Linked DNA regions of Homo sapiens: region 1 is linked to region 2. The links come from fine-mapping of genetic effects on gene expression. Tissue or cell type: CD8 T cells. Region 2 holds a variant in brackets; the other region holds the start of a gene. All regions are shown on one strand. Distances are between the middles of the regions.

Region 1 (2,500 bases), 95 kb before region 2:
CTCCCCTTATCCTGCCCTTGCTTCTGGTCCCCAAACTCAAACAGGGCAGCCGTTCTCCTGGGACATCGTTTCCCTCCTGTGGGCTCTCTTTCCCTGGGCACCCCCAGTCTTGCTCCCTCACCTACCTCAAGCCCGCGCCCATCACTCTACAGTTAGGCCCTACCAGCTTCATTTTCCTCCAAAACACCCATCTCCGTGGGTTCCTCTCCTGAGACAGCCCACATGAGGAACAGCGCCTGGCACACACCTGGGAAATGTTTTGGAAGAAACGAATTCAAGGAGGAGGGTCCTGAGGGGGTGGAGCGGGAGGGCAGAGGCCCTTGGAGCTGGACAGGGAGACAAGAAGGGGTCTGGCAAGCCGGGGTGACGTGGGGGCCGCTGCCCTGACCACTCCCTGTGTCCCACAGGTGCCTGGGGGCCAGGGACACCGCCCTGGCCATGCCCTGTGTCCAGCAGGTGCCTGGGGGTTGGGGTCACCGCCCTGGCCACTCATGTGTCCAGCAGGTGTCTGGGGACCGGCTGGCCATTCCCTGTATCCTGTAGGTGCCTGGGGGCCAGGGACACCGCCCTGGCCATTCCTTGTATCCTGCAGGTGCCTGGGGGCCGGGGACACCGCCCTGCCCACTCCTTGTATCCAGCAGGTGCCTAGGGGCTAGGGGTCACCGCCCTGGCCACTCCCTATATCCTCCAGGTGCCTGGGGGCTGGGGTCACAGCCAGGGCCACTATCCGTGTCTCGCAGGTGCCCGGGGACCGGGGACACCGCCCTAGCCACTCCCTGTATCCTGCAGGTGCCTTGGGGCCGGGGGCACTGCCCTGGCCATTCCCTGTGTCCGGCGGGTGCCTGGGGGCGAAGCGGGGACTGGGGATCCGCAGGTGCACCCGTGGGGTTGGGGGTGGGCGCCTCTCCTCTGGGGCCCTCCGTTCCCCTCTTCTCCACAACGCCCTCCCTAGCGTTCGCCCCCAGAGTTCCGCCACCGCGTAGAGCAGTCGCCGCCAGCGCTCTCACAGCGTCCTCAGGTCCCCAAGAGCCCGCACCGCCGCCCCCGCAGCCCTCCCTCCGCGCATGCTCCACAGCGGGGCTCCCAGAGGCGGGTCTGGAGCCTCGCGACACGCCTACAGACTCGATATCAGCCAATCTACGGCCGTGATGTAGTTGACTGACCGCCCGTGGCGGGGTCCCGTATTCGGATTGGGCATTCCTGCTGTTGTGGGCGGACCCAGGAGGGCGGAACCCGGAAGGCACGGCGCTCAGCTCAGGACCGCGCGCCGTGGTCTGAGGTCCGCGGCAGGGTCCCGCATGGCGGCGCACAGGAAGCACGGTAGGTGGGTGCGGTGCGGAGGCCTGCCCAGACCCCAGACCCGGCTCTCGGCTCAGACCGCGGTGTTGACTCGGGACCCCGACCCCGGCCCCTTTCCAGGCCCCACCCCAAACCCAGACCGACTCCCCACCTCCACCCCAGTCCCTACCCATCCCCCGCTCTTACCCCGGACCGCGGCCCACCCCTCGCCCGTGTTGTTGCTTGCATGGCTGCTGGTCGGGCCGGCCCTGCCAGGCCCCACCTGGTGTCTGGGGTCCTGGGCGGAGGCGAGCCCAGCCAGGGATTCGTGTTCTTAGCAGAGCCCCTGTTGGTGAGTGAGTAGGAGCCGCTCAGCTCTTCAGAGGGGTCCTAGCCCAGGGCTCCGGGGTGGGGCTGCAGCCGGCTCCGGCAGCCTCACCGAAAAGTACAGCAGAACCTCCCAGAGCCACTGTGTCCTCATCTGAGAGACGGAGGTCATGGTGTTTACCTTCAGTGGACCTAAGGTGTGGGGCGCATCCTAGTGCTTATTAAATTCTGTGATAGCATTAGTACCAAAGACAGGAGGAGAATAAATAGAATTGGTTAACCTGGCCGTGCCTTAGAACGGAAGTGTTAGAAAATAAAGCGTGCTCCTGCTTCCTGCAAACCCCAGCTCATTACCCTCACCGTGTAATCATCATCATAATGAAAAGAGTGGCGGTTTTTGACATGAATCTCGTGTTACTTGGATTAATTCAGGCGCTGATGAATTTTTTTCCTTCTCTATGTTTAAAACTGATAATCATGTTTTTCCCTTTGAAATGAAAAGATAATGGCAAACTATAGTTATAAAACAATTGCTTAAAAAGAAAAAATTTCTCAGTGAGGCAGAATGTGGAGAAAAATATGGTCTCAAGTCTTCCTTTTCAGGGACACACTGCACGTGGGCTTCCCCCTCTCCTTCAGGACCAGGGAATTGTCACCTGATCAGCTCACAGGTTAAAAATGACCTAAGAGTTTTTAAGCAGTCACATGCTAGGCTCTAAAATGGACATTCACGTATGTTAATGAGCACCAGAAATACCTTGTTCATGACCCTCTCCTGGAAGCAGGGCTGGCAGGCTGTGAATTCAGTGTCGAGGTTCTTAGGAGCAGACCTGACGGTCAGCTGCCTGCAAAGCTGTGCCTGCCTTCTTGGTGGGGGGCTTCTTGCTACTGCAGG
Region 2 (2,607 bases):
GGCTTGGTGAGCTGGTTTGGACGCCTTCGGTGCGTTTGCAATCTGGCTTAAAGTCCTGAACCAACCCTCCGACCCTGCAGAAAGTGGACTGTGCAGGCTGGGAAATGCTGAGAAGGAAGTCCTGAACCAACCCTCCGACCCTGCAGAAAGTGGGCTGTGCAGGCTGGGAAATGCTCAGAAGGTGACTCCCAACACGTGGCCTGGAAGTCATGGAGGATTCTGGACGGGAGGGCAGAGCCCAGAGCATCCCTCCTGGCCCCTCAGGGGAGCACGTCTGGGGCCTCATCAGGGAGCTGCCTGCCGAGGCCAGGTCTGCACCGTTCCTCCCCAGAGGTCACAGTGTCGGAGGCTGCACAGCCACTGCAGCAGCGACCCTTTATTTGGACTGCGCTTTTGTTGTAGGTGTCCTGTCTGCTGTTGTGCATTTGGTGGGACAGTGCTGAGGGTTTGGTGGACAGGGCTGAGGGTAAGTGGAGGGCTTGTGCTCAGTGCACAGGCCTCCGTCCGTGAGGAGACTCTGTTGGGCCCACGTGGGGCAGAACCCAGGCAGATGCCCCGATTCTGAGCTAAAGTCGGGAGAGGAAGGCACTCTGGGCCGTCTCCTTTGGGAACAGCTAAGAGTATTTTCTATGAGGGAGGAACGATGAAAAGGCATCCCGTGACCAGAAGGACAGTCTCTAGCAGAAACCATCAATGATTTCCACACATCCGAGGCCTTGGCTCCCTGGTTGTGGCTGCACCTAGTTCCCAGTTGACGTGCAACCCCACGTGGCCACGCAGCTGAGCTTCAGGGAGGCTGTGAACGCCCAGCTCGGCTCAGGGCCATGGAGGTGGTTGGGGCGCAGGGATTCAGCTCGGCCCAGGGCAGTGGAGGTGGCCGGGGCGCAGGGATTCAGCCGCCTTAGAGCGCGCCAGACATTAGCCCCAGGCTGAGTGTTTTCCACAGAGAATGCTATTAACAGGATCCCAGCTTTTGCCTCTCTGAGAGATGGCATGAAGGAGCCCACAGCCTCGTTGCACCAGGTGGCCCTGGCAAGGTGCAGCTTTGGGCTGTTTCTGCCGAGGCGGAGGCCTTCTCGCCCTGGTTGAACGGCTCGCAGGATGAGGAATCACCGCACCTGCCGCGTAAGAGCCGCTTGCAAGTTAAATGGGGTGAACCTTTGAAGGACCTGCTGCGTTTTGGATCCAGAGTTGGTTGAACACAAACTTTGGTGAGCCAACCGTCCCTGCTGTGGGGTGCAGCACGCATGTGGACCACAGACTCACGGACACACACACACACGCTGGGGGAGCGTCGGCCCCACTCGATGGTGACAAGTGTGCTCACACCCCGTTGCTAGAGCCTCCAGGGACCCTGCTTGGGAAGCCAGTCATGACAGGTGAGCGTGAGGGTGCAGGGACGGGTTGCTGGGAGTCCCTGGACACATCCCGCAGGGTCCTCTGGCAGGTCGGGGCCGGGCCGGCTGGCCACTACGTCCAGGTCGACCACAGCTGTGCCGCCTGCGGGCTGTGATCTGGGCTCCCAAGACCACCCATGTATGAGGGAGGACAGGTGGGGACTGGGTGGGGCGTTGGTGCAGGTGAACGCCCTAGACAGCCCCTC[T/A]CACAGCCAGCCTTAGCTGTCACTATTGTTAGTGGTGATGAGCCCTGCGGGGACTTTGGAGGGAAGCTCAGGCTGGTCCCAACGGCCCGGGCTTGGCGTTTATCCGTTATACCCGGATAAACCCGTGTGGGGGGCTCCATCACAGACTTAGACGCCTGTTTTCTCTATGGACCTGACGCAACTCAAGGGAAACTCATAAGCTCGGATGTGTATTTCCTGGCTCTTTCCTGAGGCTGAGGGGCCTGTCCTCGGGGGGTTTCCTGAACAGAGGTCACCATGAAATGGTCACAGGGAGAGGCAGATGCGGCCACGCCCACTCCTGGTGAGGTGCTTTTTTTTTTTAGCTGAGTGGCTCCGGCAACCCCTTGAGTCCACGTCCCTGAGTGTCCAAAGCCTGGGACACCCCCAGGTGCGGTCTGAAGCCACGGGTGGCCAGGCTGCAGGAGGGAACTCCGACGGCCACCGTGATCCCTTTCCCTCCTTCCTTCCCCAGAGGCACCAAGAGGGCAGCCACAGCCCCAGCTCCCAAGGTCCTTGCGGGACGCTGCCCTGTTACCTGATTCCTGGAAGGAGAGAGGCTATAGAGCTGCAAAACTCTTAAGAGACAAAAAAGAACCTTTCCCTGATTTTCTGATGCTTGACCTGGGCTGCTCAGCGGGGTTTGGAAGTGCAGAGGCTTCCGGTCGCCAAGGTCATCCCGCGTGGGACTCAGTGTCACAGCGGCCCCTCTCACACCCGGGACCAGCTGAGTGGGTGCCCACGGCAGCCCCCCACCCATCGTGGGGGCTGGTCCGGCTGCTCCGCCAGCTGTCCTTCTGCGCACACAGTGGGCACCTACTGCACGCATGGCACTGTGCTTAGAGCTGGAGTGAGCCGCAAGCAAACCTGCTGTTGAAGGTGCCCGCCCGACGGGGCCGCCCTGAGCATGGGTGTGCAGACGTATCCTCGAGACCCTGTTCAGTGTTTTGGGTGTACGCCCAGGAGACGAATTGCTGGATGCTGTG

Evidence for each region. PIP is the estimated chance that this variant, and not a neighbour inherited with it, causes the effect.
Region 1: it holds the start of ERICH1, and the variant in region 2 is fine-mapped to the expression of ERICH1 in CD8 T cells (Kasela 2017, PIP 0.95). The same link has a PIP of 0.9 or more in CD4 T cells.

Annotation. Positions count from the first base shown.
Region 1 is chr8:729,960-732,459 of GRCh38, reverse strand. It overlaps ERICH1 (glutamate rich 1), which reads left to right and starts at 1,236. Exons shown (of 6, transcript NM_207332.3): 1 at 1,236-1,320. The coding sequence starts at 1,299.
Region 2 is chr8:634,440-637,046 of GRCh38, reverse strand. It overlaps a transcript of ERICH1 not described here. Among named protein-coding and RNA genes, the nearest start is that of TDRP, 91 kb to the right of the region's middle. The variant T/A (reference allele first, on the strand shown) is at 1,604.